Linked DNA regions of Homo sapiens: region 1 is linked to region 2. The links come from fine-mapping of genetic effects on gene expression. A gene starts in region 2. The other region holds a variant in brackets. All regions are shown on one strand. Distances are from middle to middle. Region 1 overlaps CNBD2 (cyclic nucleotide binding domain containing 2). Region 2 holds the start of MTCL2 (microtubule crosslinking factor 2).

The links.
Region 1: its variant is fine-mapped to the expression of MTCL2 in esophagus mucosa (GTEx, PIP 0.96).

Annotation. Positions count from the first base shown.
Region 1 is chr20:35,995,555-36,007,139 of GRCh38, forward strand. The region is part of intron 8 of CNBD2 (cyclic nucleotide binding domain containing 2); the gene reads left to right. Among named protein-coding and RNA genes, the nearest start is that of CNBD2, 33 kb to the left of the region's middle. The variant C/T (reference allele first, on the strand shown) is at 5,950.
Region 2 is chr20:36,857,392-36,868,976 of GRCh38, forward strand. MTCL2 (microtubule crosslinking factor 2) reads right to left here and starts at 6,147. Exons shown (of 15, transcript NM_080627.4): 1 at 5,267-6,147. The coding sequence starts at 5,953. RefSeq lists enhancers at 1-236, 237-737 and silencers at 5,747-5,896, 5,967-6,856, 9,698-9,767.

The DNA.
Region 1 (11,585 bases), 860 kb before region 2:
ACCATGTTTTCAAGGTCTATTTATGTTGTAGCAGATATCATTTCTTCATTCTGTTTTATGGCTGAATAATATTCTAATGTATGCATATACCACATTTTTTTTGTCCACTTATCAGTTGGTGAACATTTGGATTGTTTTCACTTTTTGGCTGTTTTGAATAATGTTGCTATGAACATTTGTATGCAAGTTTTTGTGTGAACATATTTTTCAGTTCTCTTGGGTATTACCTATATGCCTAGGAGTGGAATTTCTGGGTCATATGGTATCTTAGTCAGTTTTCTATTTCTATAACTGAATATCTGAGACTGGGTAACTTATAAAGAAAAGAAATTTATTTCTTATAGTTCTGGAGGCTAGGGAATCTGAGGTCGAGGGGCTGCATCTGGTGAAGGACTTCTTGCTGGTGGGGACTCTTCAGAGTCCCGGGGCAGCAAAGGGCATCACATGGAGAGGGAGCACTTCTGTCTTTGAGATCTTAGACTACACATTCTTCCTTGAAGAAGTCTTCCTGGTTTCTCATGCTGGACCAGATCTTCCATCCTCTGCTATATGCCATTCTAGTACCCTTCAAGTACCATTCAAGTACTCTTCTGTGTTATATAACCCCACTGAAATCATACAACTGAGTCTGAAATGCTTATTAAACATCTGTTTCCCTTGCTAGAATATAAGCTCTATGAAGGCTTTGCATTCCCAGGGCTTCGTATTATGCCTGGCATCTAGCAGGTGCTCAGAAGTGAATTACAGAGTTAATGGATAAACATATTTTGGCTGCTGTGTGTGGTTTGGACACATCCTAGGCTGTGAATGTATGCGCACTCTCCACAGCCTTATCCCAACTCAGTAACAAGTATGAATAACAGTGATCATTTATTGAATTCTAATTGTATGTTTATTATATTGGGCTTGACTGTTTATACATATTGCATAATTCTCATAATAGCTCTCTTTTTGTTTTTTTTTTTTTTTTGGAGACAGAGTCTCACTCTGTTGCCCAGGCTGGAGTGCAGTGGTGCAGTCTCAGCTCACTGCAACCTCTGCCTCCCAGGTTCAGGCAATTCTCCTGCCTCAGCATCCCGAGCAGCTGGGATTACGGGCACATGCCACCATGCCCGGCCAATTTTTGTTTTTTTAGTACAGATGGGATTTCACTGTGTTGGCCAGGCTGGTCTCGAACTCCTGACCTTAAGTGATCCGACTGCCTCGGCCTCCCAGAGTGTTGGGATTACAGGCATGAGCCACCGCACCTGGCCTAATAACTCTTTAAGAAGGTACGATTGTACCATCTGACACATGAGGAAACTGGCTCATAGGGCAAATAAGTAGCAATGTAGGACTGTAGAGTTGGGATTCTAACCCAGGCACAACTGGTTCCAAAGCCCAGACTTTCTTCTCTTCATAAATATCTCCAGCCTTCTTCATTCTCCATTTCCTGTTGTTGGACATAGACGTTGTCAAGTAGCAGCCTCTAGAACTGGCCAGGGTGATAACCAGGCTTGCTGATTCTAGGGTAGTATTGTTTCCATTCACAGCTCTGTAATGGCATTTTTATTTATTTTTTTCCCCTTCCATCCTCTGCAGATCTTTTTGTGTCACCCACTTGGGTCAAGGACCCCAGCCCTCAACAGATATTTGCAGTGGCTCAGATGTCTTATCTCTTACCTCCTGCTCAGTACTGGCATGCTTCCCCCCACTTCCCTTGAGATTGTAATCTGTGTATCCTGGGGCCTCCTCCCCAAGGATTGCCTTATAGATATAGCAGTCCTCCTGAGATTAGAACTGAGGCCAACACAGGGTGGCGAGGAGAAGGGCGGAAAAAGGAGAGGTTGGAGCTGAACAGAGCTGGGTTTGAGTCCCATTTATTAGCTGGGTAGCTTTGGTGAGTACTCAAAGTCTCTGGGCCTGGTTTCTTCATATCTACCTTGGGTAGTGTCATGGTTAGCAGCATAGGCTTGGAGTCCACTGCTTCTGTTTGAATACAGGGTCCTTCTCTTATTAGTGATGTGATACTGGGCAAGTGGGCCCTATGTCTAAGTGCACCAGTGCCCTCAGAGTCTGTAAAATGTAAATAATGGTCCGTACCTCGTAGGATTGTAATGACATTAAGCAAATTAATATATAAAAACTCTTAGAACACTACCTGGCTGCATAGGCAGATGGCAGATGTTTGTTATCATTACCACAACAGGCTGCTAGGAAGGCAGAGTGAGATGATGTATGCATGAGGCCTTATAAGTACTCAGTAAATGTTTCTTCTCATGTCAATTCTTGTTTGTCACTTTTCCACTGTCAATCCACCAGAGAAAAAGTTGCATCCCACAAATTTTGATATGTTGTATTTTCAATGTTATTCAGTTCAAAATACCTTTAAATTTCTCTTTTGATTTCTTCTTTGACCCATGGAATATTTAGAAGAGTGTTTAGTTTCCAAGCATTTGGGGGATTATCCACCTATCTTTCTGTTACTGATTTCTTTTTTCTTTTTCTTTTTTTTTTTTTTTTTTTGAGAGGGAGTCTCGCTCTGTCACCCAGGCTGGAGTGCAGTGGTACAATCTCAGCTCACTTCATCCTCCACCCCCCAGGTTCGAGCAATTCTCCTGCCTCAGCCTCCCGAGTAGCTGGGATTACAGGCATGCACCACCAAACCCAGCTAATTTTTGTATTTTAGTAGAGATGGGGTTTCAGCATGTTGGCCAGGCTGGGCTTGAACTCCTGACCTCTGGTGATCTGCCTGCCTCGGCCTCCCAAAGTGCTGGGATTATAGGCGTGAGCCACCACGCCTGGCCTCTGTTATTGAATTCTAAGATAACATACTTTATATGATTTGAATCCTCTGAAATGTATTAAAACTTGTTTTATGGTCCAGAATATAGTCTGTCTTGGTAAATGTTTCATTTGCATTTGAAAAAAACTTGCTGTTTTGGGGTGCAGTGTTCTATGAATGTTAAGTAGGTGAAGTTGGTTGATAGTATTGGTCAAGTCATCTGTACCCTTATAACTTTCTGTCTACTTGCTCTATCAATTGTTAATAGAGGCTGGCGTGGTGGTTCACGCGTGTAATCCCAGCACTTTGGGAGGCCAAGGCGGGCAGATCACCTGAGGTCAGGAGTTCGAGACCAGCCTGGCCAACATATAGTGAAACCCTGTCTCTACCAAAATAATACAAAAATTAGCTGGGCATGGTGGCGCATGCCTGTAGTCCCAGCTACTTGGGAAGCTGAGGCAGGAGAATTGCTTGAACCCGGGAGGCAGAGGTTGCAGTAAGCCAAGATCACGCCACTGCACTCCAGTCCGAGCGACAGAGCAAGACTGTGTCTCTCAAAAAAAAAAAAAAAAAAAAAAAAAATTCTTAATAGAGTTGTTAAAATCTCCAGCCATAATTATAGATATATTTTTCTCCTTGTATTTCTGTCTGTTTTGCCTCATATATTTTGAAGCTCTTTTATTATATGCATAGATGTTTGGGATTGAACTCTTAATTATTATGAAATGAACTTATTTGTCCCTGGTAATATTCTTTGCTCTAAAACCTACTTTTTCTGATGTAAATTCAGCCACTTCTTTTGATTTAGTGTAGCTTCCTCTTGATTAGTATTAGTTTGGTATATCTTTTTCCATCCTTTTGTGTTTAACCTATTTGTGTCTTTATATGTAAAAGTGAATTTCTTAAAGGCAGCATATAATTGGATCTTGCTGAAAGACCCAATTTTTATTGAGATGCCTAATCATTGACATTTAATGTTAATATTGATTATGGTTGGATTTGACTCTACCATCTTGCTATTTTTCTTTCTATTTGTCACATCTATTCCCTTTTTCTTCTGTTTTTCCCTGCCTTTTGGATTATGTATTTTGTATAATTCAATCTTATTTTCTTTGTTGGCTTATTAGCTGTTTGTGGTATTATTTTCACAGTTGCTTTATGATCATTGTATATACTTTTAACTTATCACAGTCTACCTTTAAGTGATATTATACCACTTCATGTATAGAATCAGAATCTTACAATGATATATTTCCATTTTCTCCTCCTAGATATTATGCTATTGTGATATATTATACTTTAATGTATATTAAAAACCTTACCATACATGGTTATTACTTTTGCTTTAAACAAGTATCTTCTTTTTTTTTTTTTTTGAGACGGAGTTTTGCTCCTGTTGCCCAGGCTGGAGTGCAATGGCACGATCTCGGCTCACTGCAACCTCCACCTCCTGGGTTCAAGTGATTCTTCTGCCTCAGCCTCCCTAGTAGCTGGGATTATAGGTGCCTGCCACCATGCCCAGCTAATTTTGTGTATTTTTAGTAGAGACAGGGTTTCACTATGTTGGCCAGGCTGGTCTTGAACTCCTGACCTCAGGAAATCCACCTGCCTCAGCCTCCCAAAGTGCTGGGATTACAGGCATCAGCCACCATACCCAGCTTAAACAAGTATCTTTTTTGTATATTTAAAAAATAATAAGAAAAGACTCTTATGTTAACCTACATAGTTACTATTTCTGATGTTCTTTGTTCCTTTGTATAGATCCAGATTTCTACCTAATAACCACTTCCTTCTGCCTGAAGTACTTCCTTTAACATTTCTTGTATTTCAGCTCTGTTAGTGATGAATTATTTCAGCTTTTCTATGTCTGAAAACTATTTTATCTTCATTTTTGAAAGAAATTTTTGCTGGATATAAAATTCTAAGTTGACAGGTTTTTTCTTTCACTACTTTAAAGATGTTGCATTAAAGTCTTTTTTGACTTGCATTGTTTTCAGCAAATCCGTTCATATTTTTATTTATTGTTTTCAACAAGAAGTCCGTTAACATTTTATTTATTTATTTATTTATATTTTTGAGACAGAGTCTCACTCTGTTACGCAGGCTGGAGTGCAATAGTGTAATCTCGGCTCACTGCAACCTCTACCTCCCTGGTTCAAGCGATTACCCTGCCTCAGCCTCCTGAATAGCCGGGACTACAGGCATATGCTACCATACTTGGCTAATTTTTGTATTTGTTGTTGTTGTTGTTGGTTTCTGAGATGGAGTCTTGCTCTTGTCACCCAGGCTGGAGTGCAATGGCACAACCTCGGCTAGCTGCAACTTCCGCCTCCCAGTTTCAAGTATTCTTGTGCCTCAGCCTCACGAGTAGCTGGGATTATAGGCGTCCACCACCACGCCTGGCTAATTTTTTTTTTTTTCATTTGTGTATGAAATTTTTTTTTTTTTTTTTTTTGATCATTCTTGGGTGTTTCTCGCAGAGGGGGATTTGGCAGGGTCATAGGACAATAGTGGAGGGAAGGTCAGCAGATAAGTGAACAAAGGTCTCTGGTTTTCCTAGGCAGAGGACCCTGCGGCCTTCCGCAGTGTTTGTGTCCCTGGGTATTTGAGATTAGGGAGTGGTGATGACTCTTAACGAGCATGCTGCCTTCAAGCATCTGTTTAACAAAGCACATCTTGCACCGCCCTTAATCCATTTAACCCTGAGTGGACACAGCACATGTTTCAGAGAGCACAGGGTTGGGGGTAAGGTCACAGATCAACAGGATAAGAATTTTTCTTAGTACAGAACAAAATGAAAAGACTCCCATGTCTACCTCTTTCTACACAGACACGGCAACCATCCGATTTCTCAATGTTTTCCCCACCTTTCCCCCCTTTCTATTCCACAAAACCGCCATTGTCATCATGGCCCGTTCTCAATGAGCTGTTGGGTACACCTCCCAGACGGGGTGGTGGCCGGGCAGAGGGGCTCCTCACTTCCCAGTAGGGGCGGCCGGGCAGAGGCGCCCCTCACCTCCTGGGCGGGGCGGCTGGCAGGGTGGGGGGCTGACCCCCCCACCTCCCTCCCGGACAGGGCGGCTGGCCGGGCAGAGGGGCTCCTCACTTCCCAGTAGGGGCGGCCGGGCAGAGGCGCCCCTCACCTCCCAGACGGGGCGGCTGGCCGGGCGGGGGGCTGACCCCCC[C/T]ACCTCCCTCCCGGACGGGGCGGCCGGCTGGGCGGAGACGCTCCTCACTTCCCAGACGGGGTGGCTGCCGGGCGGAGGGGCTCCTCACTTCTCAGACGGGGCGGCTGCCAGGCGGAGGGGCTCCTCACTTCTCAGATGGGGCGGTTGCCAGGCGGAGGGTCTCCTCACTTCTCAGACGGGGCGGCCGGGCAGAGACGCTCCTCACCTCCCAGACGGGGTCGCGGCCGGGTAGAGGCGCTCCTCACATCCCAGACGGGGTGGCGGGGCAGAGGCGCTCCCCACATCTCAGACGATGGGCGGCCGGGCAGAGACGCTCCTCACTTCGTAGATGGGATGGCGGCCGGGAAGAGGCGCTCCTCACTTCCTAGATGGGATGGCGGCCGGGCAGAGACGCTCCTCACTTCCCAGACTGGGCAGCCAGGCAGAGGGGCTCCTCACGTCCCAGACGATGGGCGGCCAGGCAGAGACGCTCCTCACTTCCCAGACGGGGTGGCGGCCGGGCAGAGGCTGCACTCTCGGCACTTTGGGAGGCCAAGGCAGGCGGCTGGGTGGTGGAGGTTGTAGTGAGCTGAGATCACGCCACTGCACTCCAGCCTGGGCACCATTGAGCACTGAGTGAGCCGGACTCCGTCTGCAATCCCGGCACCTCGGGAGGCCAAGGCTGGCGGATCACTCGCGGTTAGGAGCTGGAGACCAGCCCGGCCAACACAGCGAAACCCCGTCTCCACCAAAAAAATACGAAAACCAGTCAGGCGTGGCGGTGCGCGCCTGCAATCGCAGGCACTTGGCAGGCTGAGGCAGGAGAATCAGGCAGGGAGGTTGCAGTGAGCCGAGATGGCAGCAGTACAGTCCAGCTTCGGCTGGGCAGCAGAGGGAAACCGTGGAAAGAGGGAGAGGGAGAGGGAGACCGTGGGGAGAGGGAGACGGAGAAGGAGAGGGAGAGGGAGAGCCTAATTTTTGTATTTTTAGTAGAGATGGGGTTTCGCCATGTTGGCCAGGCTGGTCTCAAACACCTGACCTCAAGTGATCCACCTGCCTTGGCTTCCCAAAGTGCTGGGATTACAGGCATAAGCCACTGCACCTGGCCAACATTTTTATTTTTGTATAAACTCTTTATATAACCTTGTATATTTTCTGTACACAGTGTACCTTTTTGCTTTGGCTGATTTTGAATTTTTTTATCAATAGTTTTAAGCAATTTGATTATGTTGTGCCTTGGTATAATTTTTGTCATGTTTCTGTGCTTGAGGTTCATTTAGTTTCTGGGATTCCTGGGTTTGTATTTTTAAAATCTGATTTGGAATATTTTGACCATGATTTTTTCAAAAAAATTATTTGTCTCTCCCTCTCCTCCACTTTGAGAACTCCAATTACATGTATATTGGATTGCTTACAATCCAATATATTATTGGATTGCAACATGTATATTGGATTGCTGTGTTTCACAGCTCACTGATGTTCTGTTCATTTTTTTTATTCTTTTTTTTTTCCTCTGTGACATTTTGGATAGTTTCTATTGCTATGTCTTCAAGTTTTCTAATCCTCCTTCTGCATTGTCTAATCTGCTGTTAATCCCACCTAGTGTACTTTTCATTTTAGACATTTTAGTTTTTATATCTCAAAGTTTGATTTGGGTCTTTTTATAATTTCCACAACTCTACTTAATATACACAATATTTTTTCCTTGGAATATAATTATAATAGCTCTTCCAATGCCCTTATGTACTAATTCCATCATATGTGTCATTTCTGAGTCAGTTTCAATCCATTGTTTCCTTTTCATATAGTTTATATTTTCCTACTTCTTTGTATCCTTCATGATTTTTTAATAGGATGCTAGAAAATGTGAATTTTGAGTACTGCATATTTTTTATTCCTGTAAATATTTCTGAACGTTAAGATGTAGTTACTTGGAAGTATTTTGATCTTTTCAAGGCTTGCTTTTAAATTTGTTATGTGGGGTCAGAACAGTGTTTAATCTAGAGCTAGTTTCCCATTCGTGAAGTAAAACCATTTTGTGTATTTCAGAATGCCCCATGACTTGAGAGGTTTTCTATTCTAGTTATTGGGAAAAGGACTATTTCTGGTCCTGTTTGAGCTCTGATGATTTATCCCTCTAATCATTTGGGGTGATTCTTTCCCCAGCCTTGGGTAGTATACTATGTAACAAATTGCCCCAAAACTTAGCAACTTAAAATAACAGACATTTACTTCTCCCAATTTCTGTGAGTCAGAAATTTGGGCACAGCTTAGTTTGGTGCTTCTGACTCAAGACCTCTTATGAACCAGCTACTTGGGAGGCTGAGGCAGGAGGATCATTTGAGTCCAGGAATTCAAGACCAGCTTGGAAAACATAGCTGGACTCCATCTGAAAAAAAAAAAAAAATCTCTTGAGGTTGCCATTGTCAGCCAGGGTTGTGGTCTCATCTGAAGGCTCATCTGGGAGGGACCTGCTTCCAGGCTAACTCACGTGGCTATTGGCCAAGTGTCTGGCCTCATGGGTGTCTCTACAGGGCAGTTTCATGACATGTTTCCCCAAGAATGAGAGAGAGCAACAGAGAACATGCCCAAGATGGAAGCCACAGTTTTTTTATAACCTAATGTCAGAAATAAAATCTCATCACTTCTGCTGTATCCTGTTAGACGTGAGCCCAACCCACACTTAATGGGAGGGTATTACACAAGTGTGTGACTAGTAGGAGGTGGGGTTCACTGGTGGCCATCTCAGAGGCTGCCTACCACTGGTAGTTTCCCAATACACATGTGCTGATTAATACTCAGCTGAGCTTCAGGGGAAACTCTCTGCAGATCTTTGGAGTTCTGTCTCTATGCAGCTCTCTTCTCTCTGGTTCCCTGCTCTGTGGACTCTAGCTGCCTTGCCCTCCCCTGACTATGTCTTCTGTCTCATCAATTCAAGGAGATTGCTGGGCTCCATCTGAGTTCCCCCTCCCTGCACCATGGCCCAGAAAATCTTTAGGCAGCATGCTGGGGCAGTAGTAGGGCTCACCTCATTTGTTTTCTGTCTTGCATCATGGATGATTGTCCTTTATTGCCTGATATTCAATGTCTTTTTTTTTTTTTGAGACAGGGTCTCACTCTGTCACCTAGGCTGGAGTGCAGTGACCTGTTCATAGCTAATTGCAGCCTGGACCTCCTGGGCTCAAGCAGTCCTCTCGCCTCTCCTGAGTAGCTGGGACTATAGGCATGAGCCACCACACCCACCTAATTTTTTATCTTTTTGTAGAGATAGAGTCTCACTATGTTGCTCAGGCTGGTCTTGAACTCCTGGCCTCAAGGGATCTTCCCACCTCAGCCTCCCAAAGTGCTGAGATTACAGGCATGAGCCACCGCATCTATCCTTCAATGTCTTTAAAACAATTTTTTCCATAAATGTTGTCCAATATTTTCAAGTAGAAGAGAAAATTTAGTCCCTGTTATTCCATCTTGGCTGGAAGCAAAAGCAGAAGTCTAGATCTATGTTTTTAATAGTTGAGTTTTATTCTATTATATGCATATATCATAATTAATTTAATTACCTTTTACAGATATTTTGAATTCTTTTTCAAATGTTTACCCTACTGTGGCAGATTTCCTGGTGTGTTTGTCTTTGCATCTGTGTGCAAGGAAACGTATTAGACAAATTCTGAGAATTACTGGATCAAATAGTTCAGCGGTCCCCAAACTTTTTGGCACCAGAGGCTGGTTTCGTGGAAGACAATTTTTTCACAGATGGGGGCAGGTGGTAACGCTTTTGGAATGAAACTGTTCCACCTCTGATCATCAGGCATTAGATGGAGCACACAACCTAGATGCCTCTCATGCACAGTTCTCAATAGGGTTTGTGCTCCTATGAGACTCTAATGCCGCCACTGATCTGACAGGAGGTGGAGCTCAGGTGATAATGCTCATGCACCTGCCACTCATCTCCTGCTGTACAGCCTCATTCCTAACAGGCCACGGACCTGTACCAGTCCATGGCCAGGGGATTGGGGACCCCTGAAATAGTTAATCCAGTGCATACTGACTACATACATTTAAAACATTGGTAGATGTTGTTGAAGTGCCTTTCCGAAAGATCAAACTCAGGGCTTTTTATATGTGTTTTGTTAAGCCAGACCTACTGCTTGTGGAACTTGGATTTATTCCCATTAACATTAATTTGAGGGGCCGGGCATGGTGGCTCACACCTGTAATCCCAGCACTTTGGGAGGCCGAGGTAGACGGATCACGAGGTCAGGAGATCGAGATCATCCTGGCTAACACGGTGAAACGCTGTCTCTAATAAAAATACAGAAAAATTAGCCGGGCATGGTGGCGGGCGCCTGTAGTCCCAGCTACTTGGGAGGCTGAGGCAGGAGAATGGTGTGAACTTGGGAGGTGGAGCTTGCAGTGAGCCGAGATCAAGCCACTACACTCCAGCCTAGGTGACAGAGCAATACTCCATCTCAAAAACAAAAAAACAAAAACAAAACAAAACAAACAAAAGACATTAATTTGAAGAGTTGATTCTCATACTAGAGATTTTTTTTTTCTTTTTTTTTTTGAGATAGAGTCTTGCCCTGTCACCCAGGCTGGAGTGCAGTGGCACGATCTTGGCTCCCTGCAACCTCTGCCTCCCAGGTTCAAGCAATTCTCTTGCCTCAGCCTCTGGAGTAGCTGGGATTACAGGCATGCACCACCATGCCCAGCTAATTTTTTGTATCTTTAGTAGAGATGGGGTTTCACCATGTTGGCCAGGCTGGTCTCGAACTCCTGACCTCTTGATCTGCCCGCCTCGGCCTCCCAAAGTGCTGGGATTATAGGCATGAGCCACCACACCCGGCTGGAGATCTCTTTTTTAATCAATGTTCTTGACGTATAATTTTTATATAATAGAGTGCACATATTTTATGTGTATAGTTAAATGACAAATTAGAAAAAAAATTCTTTTTGAGACAAGGTTTCACTTTGTCACCCAGTCTGGAGTGCAGTGGCATGAACATGGCTCAATACAACCTTGACCTCCCAGACTCAAGTAATCCTACCACTTTAGCCTCCTGAGTAGCTGGGACTACAGTCACATGCCACCACACCCTGCTAATTTTTGTATGTTTTGTAGAGACGGGGGTTTGCCATGTTGCCCAGACTGGTCTCGAACTCCTGAGCTCAAGCGATCCTCCTGCCTTGGCCTTCCAAAGCGTGGGATTACAGTGGCGTGAGCCACTGCGCCTGGCCATAGTTCCATGACAAATTTATACCTCTACAATCAAGTTATAGAACATTTCCATCACCCCACAAAGTTCCCTTGTGCCGCCTCCCAGTCAATCTCTACCCCTCACCCTTGCCCTAGGCAACCACTGATTTGTTTTCTATCATTATAGGTTAGATTTGTCTTCCTATGGTTTCATATAAATGAGATCATACAGGCCAGGCATGGTGGCTCATGCCTGTAATCCTAGCACTCTGGGAGGCCGAGGCAGGTGGCTCATGAGGTCAGGAGATTGAGACAATCCTGACTAACATGGTGAAACCCTGTCTCTACTAAAAATACAGAAAATTAGCTGGGCGTGGTGGTGGGCGCCTGTAGTCCCAGCTACTCAGGAGGCTGAGACAGGAGAATGGCATGAACCTGGGAGGTGGAGCTTGCAGTGAGCAGA
Region 2 (11,585 bases):
TGAGTGAGTATCCTCTCTAATCTGTCTGGAGGCGTGCTTCTGAAAGCATCCAACACCAGCGAGTCACTGGATGGGTCTGTGAGATGTGTGCAAGTGGCTGTGTGTCTCTGAGCTTGAGCTGTGAACAGTATATGTGCATTTGTATGTGCAAGACAGAGTATGCCCAGGGACACAGGCTCAGCCCCAAGGAGGCTGCGGCTGGGACTCAGGGTAAGGAGCAGCCAAGAGCTTTGCTGACTGTGGTGACCTCCTCTCCTCCACCCAGTGACAGACTAGAGTCCTCCCCCTGTAGCTCCTGGGAGCCAAGAAGAGAAGAGCTACATGCAGAAGCCTACTACGTGGCCACTGGGTCCAGACACCCAGCACAGGGCCTGGTACCCAGGAGCCACTGGGGAAATATGTGTTGAATGAATGAATGAATGCCTGGAGGAACGGATAAGGGATCGGCAATGACTGGGACACACTAACACTCACTGTGCACTCCATCTGCGTCCTCACATTGAAAAGGGTCCTCACGGCCCTGGGCGGGCGTGCTTGTCCCCCATGTTACAGAAGGAACAATCTCACACACATGCACACACAAACATCCTCCACTAACCCCCACCTCCCCCAGGCTCCGGGCCCCCAGCATGCCTTAGCCTAGAGCCTGGCCCATGACAGGATTCCTCTCACCAAATGTGTCTCAGCCTAGACACGCTAGTTAACAACCAAAAGCTCACTGCTCTGGTCACACTGCAGAAAGAACAGGCCCAGAGTTAGACAAACCTGGGTTGGAATCCTGGCTATGTAATTTAGAGCCTCCATTTACTGATCTGTAAAATGGCAAGTGGGGATGGATTAGGTGCTTCCTCCAGGCCCTTCTGAGCTGACATCTAGACTGGCTGCACTTCACTCACATCTAGAATCACCAAGGAGGGAAAACACACACACACACACACACACACACACACACACACACACTGGCTGCACTTCACTCACATCTAGAATCACCAAGGAGGGAAAACACACACACACACACACACACACACACTGGCTGCACTTCACTCACATCTAGAATCACCAAGGAGGGAAAACACACACACACACACACACACACACACACACACACACACACACACACACACACACACACGGCAGGGAAGGTGATCACACCTTTCCGTTCTCCCTGGGGCAGCTACTGATGTATTAACATTCTAAAACTAAGGAAATCCACCCTCCTGCATTCTCCCAGTTCCTCCAAGAATGAAGACACAGACATCCTGTCTGCCTATTGGCTATGAATAATAACAATTCCTCAGGCGACTTGGGTTCACTGCTTGCAAAATGTTTTCTTGTCTATTCACACTTCCCTGATTCCTGATGACCATCGTATGAGGTTGTCCAGGCAGGTTCCATCACCTTTACTTATTTTTTTTTGAGACAAGAGTTTCACTCTGTTGCCCAGGCTAGAGTGCAGTGGCGCCATCTCGGATCACTGCAACTTCTGCCTCCCAGGGTCAAGTGATTCTCCTGCCTCAGCCTCCTGAGTAGCTGGGATTACAGGCGCCCACGACCACGCCTGGGTAATTTTTGTATTTTTAGTAGAGATGGGGTTTCGCCACGTTGGCCAGACTGGTTTCGAACTCCTGACCTTAGGTGATCCGCCCGCCTTGGCCTCCCAAAGTGCTGGGATTACAGGCGTGAGTCACTGCGCCAGGCCCCATCACCTTTATTATACAGATGAGAAAAAAAGCAGCTCAGAGAAGCCAGGTAACTTGCCCATGGCCACACAGTAAACGGGAGAGTCAGGTTTCAAAGTCAGGTCTTCAGACTCCAACTCTCAGATTCCTCCATCCACACCCAGTGGGTTCCTACATGTTCTGGCCACATGGTACGTGCTTAATGGTTAGTGGTGATGAAAGGCTGGAAGACCTCAGATCACCGGGTCTTTGAAGGTCTCAGGTGACGTGTCTGCTCGGCAGCTAAAGCTGCATCTTAGAATCCTGGCACCTCAGTAGTTAATAACCTTCAGACTTCCTTGGCTAGAAGGGACCCAAGGTCAGGCAGCTCAACTGCAGCCACCACATCAATCTCCCTCTGAACCCTTCTCAAGCAATCATTCCACAAACCCTCTATCTTTATCCAAGCATGCAAGGTCATCCCGCCTCTCTCTGAATAATTAAAGTGACAGTGAGCTCACTACCTTCTCTGTAGAAGCTCCTTCTATCTTCTCACTGGGAGAGAGTTGCCCGATTTATGCTTTCCTCACTTGGACCCCAGAGCAGACCATACCAGACTGGAGATCACAGTCCTTCGCAGTTGACAGTTCCCAGTGACCCCTACAAGGGGGAGGTAAGCCTGAGCAGGGCCACCCACCAGACCTGGTGGGACCTCCTTCAACTCTGCTCCTGCAGGGGACATACTGGGGATTTGGAGTCCTTTCCCTTGTACTCAGTTTCTGCATCTTAGAGGCAAAGTAGTCCAGAAAGGCAGAAAACACATCAAGAGTCTAACACATGCTTACTCCAAGCCCTGGCAGCCTAGCGACCCTGCTCTGGGACCCACTCTGGCCACAGTTTTCCCATCTGTGGAATAAACAACACAACACCTCCAGTAATAACCCCTCTATTTATGGTCCACATTTAGTCTCTGGATTTTGACCCTGCCTCTGTGAGGCTGGCGGCTGGGATAAACAGATATACAGAGAAGTTAAGGGACTAACCCAAATGTACACAGTGAGAAGTGGCATGGGCTGGCCTTGCTCTCCTCTCTTACCCACACTCCTTCCCCTCTCTGGCCTTAGCGCTGTTCTTGAACTCAACGAGCATTCCAATTTCCCTTAGCCTGAAATCTTCTTACTCCAGACCCTCACTCAGTTGGCTCCACGGCATCCTGCAGCCCTCAGCCTCCCTGTGCACCCCAGCCCCCACCTTCGTGTGCTCCTGGCAAACTGTCCCCTTTACCCTCATTATGATCTGTGTTGTGATTTCTTGTATGACTATTGTTTAATTCTGGTCTCCCCAAAAGCTCTATGAAAACAGACACCTCATCCTCCCTTGTCCACAGCTGTATCCCAGATCTGCCCTAGCACACGGCAGGTTCTAAATAAACAGCTGCCGAATGAACCAATGAGGGGCCAGGAGAAAGAGCCCAGCCTGCCTTGGGTGATGAAGAGGATCTATTCTGCCCTCACAGAATCCACAAGAGAACAGGCTGGGTGCACATGGAAACATGTCCCGTGCCTCTGACAAGAGCAGTGATCAGAGGTTTACTACATACCAGGTGCTCTAATGGTGTTTGCAGGAATCAGCTCATTTAACCGTTGAGGTTGGAAAGCGTGTTACTGTCCCATTTTTACAAATGAGAAAGCAAAGGTCCAGGGCCTTTAAGTAACTTGCCAAAGATCACGCCGTCAGGAAGCGACAGACCCCAGATCCAATAGCAGCACGAAGCCTGAGCCACTGAATGAATGGTGGAAATTACGGTTCCATCTTGGCCCAAACGTGGGATGTCCCCAGCTGGACCCCGGCCCCTGTGAGATCCCGGGCTCAACCCCCAGCCTCCTGGGACTGTTTTCCCCTTTAAACAGTCATGGGTGCCTCAAACAGACTTTGGGTCAGAGCCTGATGACTTCCTGGGATGGACAGGGGCCCATGGAGATGGGTGCCTAGGAGCCCTGAAGCAAAGCTCTGCAACCCATCCCCCTTCACCAGAGTGAGTAGCAGGAACCGGGAGGCAGGGGTGAGGAACTCAGAGTTTCGGTTAAGGCCAATTCAGGCAGCACTCACTGGAAGCAGCTCAGAGCACCAAGAGGGCAGGAGCAAAAGACCCTTGTCCTGGCTCGTCACCTCCCTCCTCCTCCTCACCTTCCACTTGCCCTCTCCTTACCACCGGCTTCTGAAGACTCAAAGAGCCGACTGAACTCCCAGTTGCCAACACCGAACCCGGCCCTTGGGAAGACATCCTCCCATTTAACGGATGAGGAGACTGAGGCCTGGCTTGGGGAAAGGTGTCTCTTGATTCAGACAGACCTTGTCCTTCCATACTACAAGCATTTACAGAACTCAGGCTGGAGAGCAGATCCCGGGGAAAATGGGGAGACAGAGACATAGTTGAGCAAGACACCAACACTCTAATGAGGGAGAAGCCCATTTGGTCAGAAGAGCCACAAGGAAAAGTTAAAACCTAAGTGCTGAGGGCAGACATAAACCAGCAGCATGCTGTGAGCTCCACAGCCAGGGGCACTCTGGGTGTTGTGCCAGGCCATCATCCACTGACAAGAGTCGGCAACATTTCAGCCTCCTCCAAAACCGTGCCCAGCCAGCGGCAGGAGAGCTCAGGAAGCTTCCAGCCTCCCAGGGAGAGGTCAACACGTGCAAGCTGGGCTGTCCCTAAAGCTGCCATGGCACCTGGAAGCGTGCAGATGGAGCCCGGCTGGCACCCAGTAGGTGCTCATGTCCACTGAAAAAGCAAAGGCAAAGCCTGCTGTCCGGGGGAAGCCCTAGGGTCCCCACATGGCCACAGGGAAGTCCTGTTCCAGGTGGGCAGTTGCCCTCCTCTCACTGCGAACATGGAAAGGCACTGGCCACGAGGGGCCAATGGGGCTGTTGTGTGCACAAGGTCTGCCCCAGGGAGGGCAAAAGACACTGTCCTGGGATTTAGGAAGCTGCCTCTGAACCGGTTCTCCCACGACATCATCCTCCAGGCTGTGGGACCGTTAGGCTGGGCGGAAGTGGACTCCAGCCAAGGGGATGTTCCCAGATGTCATGCTTTCAAACTGGACCCGCCCAGAAAGGCAGGCAGAGACAGGCCTGCGCCCGGGAAAGCCCTGGGTAACGACTCAGGATGGCATTCAGGCCTTTCCTGGGCAGGGGATGGCCACAGGTTTCCCTGGCGGCGGTGTCTATCAATCCCGTCCCAAGAAGGAGAGCCTGGGCGTGGAGGTTCTGGGCAGCTGAAGGCAGAGATCCATCCCTTCCCTGGCTACCCACCCCCACCTCAGCAACGCCTCCCAGAACGCTCCAAAGCTTTCTCAAGTCCCCGCTCCCAGGTTAGGGCCCTGTAGCCAGTTCCAAGGTCTTTTTCAGGAGCGCGCTTCCCAAATAAAGTTGAGAGGGGGCGGGGGGAATGAGGGAGCCCCAGATCCACCTCAGAGTGGTCCCCAGAGGGCTTGGGCCCCTTTCTCCGGATTGTTCAGTGGGAAGGAGGGCCGGCTGGTGCCTCAGGCCCGCGGGACTGTGACAGCCGGCGACCCCTGCGACCTCCCTTTCTACCCGGGCGCCCCCACCTTGAGATAGTCGTTCTCCGAGCGCAGCTCCTCCAGCTCCCGCACCAAGCCGCTGGGCCCGCAGTCCAGCATCTCCTCGGTGAGGTCGGAGAAGGCAAGCGAGGCGCTGAGCGGCAAGCGGCTGCTGCCCACCGACGACGCGGCCACCGACGGCTCGTCCGGGGAGGCGGGCGGCCGCGGGGGCTGCTGCGCGGAGGGCGCGGGCTGGGCCGGCTGCCCCGTACGGACCCCCGCCGGGCCCCCGGCCGCGGACTCGGCGTCGCTGCTCAGCGCCAGCTCCAGGCCCAGCAGGCGCGCCTCCTCCGACGCGCAGTCCGACACCTCCGAGCTGCTATCCGTGAGGCTGGGGGGCGGCGGTGGCGGTCGCGGCCCCGCACCCGAGCGCGGACGGCCCTTGGCACGGACCCCGGTGCGGACCCCGGCCACCCGCACACCCGCACCGCGCGCCCCGGGAGCCACTGCGCGCCCCTTCTTGTCCGGCCGTGAGGAGAACGCGGCGCTGCAGGCGACTGCTGAGCCCGGGCCTGGGCCGCGGCGGCCCTTAGCCAGCGACCAGCCGGCCACGTCTTTGGGCCGGGCCGGCGACGGCGCGCGGTGGCTCTTTTTCCTCTCCGGGGCAGGCGCGGGTGCAGGCGCGGGCTGGGGACCGCAGCCCCGGACCGGGGGCTCGGCCGCCGGCGCCTCCATCGCGGCCTCCCTCGGCCTCAGCGAGCTGCGCGCATGGCCCAGGCCCGCCCGGCCTCGACGTCCCTGGGGAGGGACCCGGCGCGGCTCCGGCCGCTGGGGCTGCGGCTGCTCTCGGCCCACCTCGGCCCCGACACCGCGTCCCCGTCCCAAGCCCCGCCGCGCGGTCTCTCCGCTGCTCTGGGCTCGGAGAGTGCGGCCCGACCGCCTCCAGGCGCCCCGGCTCCGGCTGCGGCTCCGCCCGGCGCCCGCCCCCTCGGCCTCGCCGCGCCCCCGGAGCGCGCCCGGGCCCCCGCCGCCCGCACGCCGATCGCTCCCTCGGGCTCCGAGTCCGGCTGCGGCCCGGGCCCCGGCTCCGCCCGGCGCAGCCCGCCCCCCGCGCAGCCCCGCCAGCTCCCCGCCCCGCCGCCTCGGCTCGGGGGCGCGCGGTTCCGCGAACAAAAGGCGGACGCGGCGGGAGCGGCAGGGAGGGACGCAGGCAGGGAGCGAGGGAGGGATCTGCGAGGCAACAGCGACCCCTTCGAGGGTCAGGCTGGCGCGGGCAGCCGCGGCCCGGGCTCCCTCCTCCTCCGCTCCGCCGCCTCCTCCCCTGCCCGCTCGGGGAAGGCACCCGGCGGAGGCGCCCCTGCGCCCGGCGTCCGGGCAGGGCCTGCGAGAGCGGCGGGAGCCGGGACTCCCGGGCCGAGGCCGGGCGGACCTCAGTTCGCAGGAACCCGCATCCATGCACGCCCAGCGCCTCGCCCCTCGCCCCGTGCCGAGCGTGCGCGAACTCCGCCCCCTTAGCCGGCATCGCCGGAGCCGCGATCCCATCGCACAGATGCGTAAACTGAAGCCTGGGGTGCACGCGCCAAGCTCACGGTCTAGGCGGCGCCGATGGGACCCAAAGCTCACACCTCCCGGGCGCGCTCGGGCTCCCCCTGCCTCGGCTTCCCTCTCCTGGCATAGGGACCGTGAAGCCCTGTGTGCATGCCTGGCTCGCGCACCTTGACCGGCGGATATTTCTCCCCATGCGCCCCCGACCCGGGTTTCAGGCTCTGTACGGCTAAAATGGAAGCGACCCGTAGCTAGGCGCGGTGGCTCATGCCTGTAATCCCAGCACTTTGGGAGGCCGAGGCGGGTGGATCACGAGGTCAGGAGTTCGAGACCAGCCTGACCAACATGATGAAACCCCGTCTCTACTAAAAATACACAAATTAGCCGGGCGTGGTAGCGCGTGCCTGTAATCCCAGCTACTCGGGAGGCTGAGGCAGGAGAATCGCTTGAACCCGGGAGGCGGAGGTTGCAGTGAGCCGAGGTCGCGCCACTGCACTCCAGTCTGGGTGGCAGAGCTAGACTCCATCTCAAAAAAATAAACAAATAAATAAAAACAAAAATAAAATGGAGGGGACCTATTACGAGATGTCAGCCTAGCGGATGCTTTGGAAGGCGGTTTTGGCCCCCGTGGGGGCTGGCATGGGCTGGGACGGTTGCCCTGACCCCACACGTCCCCACCAGGAGCAGTGCAGGAGGACTTGAGCTCTGATGGGCGTGTTTTCTTTCCTCCCGGGCGTCTGGGCGTCTCCTTGGCTCCTGGCCGTGTTGATTTTCCCATGTCTCTCACACCTTCCCCAGCCCCCACACCGCCTGGCCGCTACGCCCCCATCCCTGAGCCACCGCAGGGCAGAGCTGGATTGAGTGCTTTGCCCCACAGATGTACCCTCGTCCTTAGGGTGCCCCACACCCCTTGCCACCAGAAGGGCAGGGCTGTTTTTGCCCCTTTACAACCTCTTTCTCCTCCTGTTCTCTCCTCCCCCTCCCATTTATCCCCTGCTCTTTCTTCCTCCTTCTTCTCCCATCTTTCCCCTTCCTTTCCCCCCTCCTTTTCCAAGTCTTCCTTTTCCTCCTCTTTCCCCTCTTCTTCCTCCTGCCCATTTTCTCCTTCTTCTTCCTCCCCCAATTCCCTTCCTTCACCTCTGCACCTGCCTGTGACACAGCAGGCACCAGGTCCACTTCTTTGTCTCTGTCCCACCTCCCCCACACGCTGTGAATACACTCCTGGGGCATCCCCTCTCTCCAGAGGCATGACTTCATCTGGATCCAGGTGAGTGAGTGCTCCTCCACCCCAACGCTAGGTGCCCTCCATACGGCCAAGTGAGGAGCAGGCACTCAGCAGGCTCTTGGCAAACACTTCCGCAGGGGCATCCCCACCCCCTCCTAGCAAGACACCAGCTCCCCTCACGGCCCACTGACTGTCCACAAACCCTGTTTGCACAGGCGCCAGGTACACTGAGGGACGCAGTGGTGGGCATGTCAGTGCCTGAACTCATGGAGCACACAGTGTGTGTTGGGGGGGACCACAAAAGACTCAGCACAAACAGGGTGGCATGGCATGTGGGCAGGAGTGCTGGAGAAGGATGTGGGAGCCGCAGGCTAGTGACCCAGGGCAGGCCTTCCCACATTCCGGGCCTCAGAGTCCCCACCTGCTCTGGTCTAATGTAACAGATGACAGGGTCCATCCAGCTCAGATGCCCCTGGCTCTAGTAGGCTGCATCTAGTCTGGCACAGAAAGATGCTGTGAAGCTCTTGGAAAGTGTGTCCTCTCTCTGTGCTTCAGTTTCTGCCCCTGTGCAGAACATAGGTTTGGAGGTGTTGGGTGGTGTGAATGCAGGGACATAGCAGACCAGGCTGGCTCAGCCACTCCTGACACACCCTTGGTCACATCAGTGGTCCTGAGATTAGAGTGGCCTGCATCTCTCTTCTAGGGCAGGGATCTGAGTCCTGGCTCTACCACCTATCCTCTCTGGGCCCAACACTCATGGCTGGCCAGGGAGGGGCCTGTGGGTCCCACCTGCTCTGAGGTGCTTTGGATTTGGGGAGTCAAGAATCTACATTGTAGACCCAGGGAAGCCTTGAGAACAACAGGGCTCTGGTGGGGAGGGACTAGGTGGGGCTGACGTAGGGGCTGTGGACTCAGGGTCAGTTCAGACCAGGGATACCACAAAGGAGATAAGACTTGTTGAGAGTCCAGAACTGGCTACATTGTAGACGGGGTGACCGTCCTTGCGCCGGCACATCCTGCAGCTGTGTGATGCGTGGCCTCTTCCTGTGTGCCGGGCTCTGTGCTCCACATTTCAGTAAAGGATCTCCAAAAGGTGAAGATACTTCTTGTGACTGATTAATATTTTCCAAAGGGTATATCTCATCCCAATTGCTCTTCTTACAATGTGACACTGATGCTCCTCCAATTGAGCGGCACATGTGTGCGGCACGTGTGTGGGGGCACTGTGTGCCCCCACCTTGAATCTCAGCAGATCTTGTGACTGTCTCAACCAACAGAGTATGGCAGAAGTGTTCATCTGTGACTTCCAAGGTTAGGTCATAAAAAGCAACATGGATTCCACCCAGCTTGCTTCTCTCTCTCTTTCTCTCTCTCTGTCTCTCTGGCCACTCACCCACCATGATAGGAGGAAGCCCAGGCCTCATGGGGAGACCGCATGAAGGTGATCTAGCCAACAACTCCAGCTCTGGTCCCCACTAACCACCAGACATGTGAGAGAGTGAGCCTGCAGATGATTCAGCCCCCAGACTTGGAGCTGCCCCAGTGGACAAGTGGAGCAGAAATGAGCTGTCTCACCAACCCTGCCCAAACTGCAAAATAAGTATTGTTGTTTTCGGCCACTAAGTTTTGGGGTCATTTGTTACATAACACTGGGTAGCTGGAATGTGTGACCAAGGTCACACAGCTTGGATGTGGCAGGGCTGGGATTGACTTGAACCCAGAGCTGCCCAATTCCAGGGCCTGTTGTGGTACCCTATTGGGCTGCGAAGTGCCCAGCACAGACACACAGTGTGTGCTGCAGAAAGCGCTACTCAAAAGAGACTGAAGCATTACCTTGTAAGAATTATATAACATAGGAAGTGAAGATGCTGATTACCCAAGTAGAAAAACGGTTTCATTTCTCCCATTCAAGCTGCTAAATTGACCAACGTGATGAAAACTGAATGGAGACTCACTCCTGGAAAGCTTCCAAGAGGAGGTGTGTTTTTTCCTTTTAAACTAAAGTTGTTTTGTTTTGTTTTTTCATTATACAGATTAAAAAACAAGCAACTGGCTATGGGAAAATTAGAGGAATCGGTCGGGAAACCTCATTAAATAGGGGAGTCAGGAAGGCCTCTCAGAGAAGGCAGCCTTTTTTGTTTTTGTTTTTGTTTTTTGTTTTTTGTTTGAGATGGAGCCTAGCTTTGTTGCCAGGCTGGAGTGCAGTGGTGCAATCTTGGCTCACTCCAACCTCTGCCTCCTGGGTTCAAGCGATTCTCCTGCCTCAGCCTCCCAAGTAATTGGGATTACAGGCATGCGCCACCATGCCCAGCTAATTTTTGTATTTTTAGTAGAGACGGGGGTTTCACCATGCTGGCCAGGATGGTCTCGATATCCTGACCTTGTGATCTGCCCACCTTGGCCTCCCAAAGAGCTGGGATTACAGGTGTGAGCCACTGCACCCAGCCAAGGAGGCAGCCTTTAAACTGAGTTATTCTTTTTTTTTTTTTTTTTTTTTTTTTGAGACAGAGCTGTCGCCCAGGCTGGAGTGCAGTGGCGCGATCTTGGCTCACTGCAAGCTCCACCTCCCAGGTCCACGCCATTCTCCTGCCTCAGCCTCCAGAGTAGCTGGGACTACAGGCGCCCGCCACCACACCTGGCTAATTTTTTTGTATTTTTAGTAGAGACGGGGTTTCACTGTGTTAGCCAGGACGGTCTCGATCTCCTGACCTTGTGATCTACCCGCCTCGGCCTCCCAAAGTGTTGGGATTACAGGTGTGAGCCACTGTGCCTGGCCTAAACTGAGTTATTCAAGGAGCCACTGAACAGTTAGGGCCTTGCCTTTTTTTTTTTTTTTTGAGACAGTGTTGCTCAGGCTGGAGTGCTGTGGTGTGATCTTGGCTCACGGCAACCTCCACCTCCCAGGTTCAAGCAATTCTCTTGTCTCAGCCCCCTGAGTGTTGGGATTACAGGCGCCCACCACCACACCTGGCTAATTTTTTTTTGTATTTTTAGTAGAGACGGAGTTTGACTATTTTGACCAGGCTGGTCTCTAACTCCTGACCTCAAGATCTGCCTGCCTTGGCCTCCCAAAGTGCTGGGATTACAGGTGTGAGCCACCATGCCCGGCTGCTGCTTTTTCTTTTTTCTTTCTTTTTTTTGAGACAGAGTCTCACTCTGTTGCCCAGGCTGGAGTGCAGTTGCACGATCTCAGCTCACTGCAACCTCCACCTCCCAAGCTCAAATGATTCTCCTGCCTCAGCCTCCCGAGTAGCTGGGATTACAGGTGCGTGCCACCACGCCTAGCTAATTTTTTTTTTTTTTTTTGAGATGGAGTGTCACTCTGCCGCCCAGGCTAGAGTGCAGTGATGCCATCTCAGTTCACTGCAACCTCCACCTCTTGGGTTCAAGCAATTCTCCTGCCTCAGCCTCACAAGTAGCTGGGACTACAGGTGCCCGCCATCATGCCTGGCTAACTTTTGTATTTTTAGTAGAGACAGGATTTCACCGTGTTGGGCAGGCTGGTCTCAAACTCCTGACCTCAAGTGATCCACCCACCTCGACCTCCCAAAGTGCTGGGATTACAGTTATGAGCCACTGTGCCTGGCCCACTTCTGT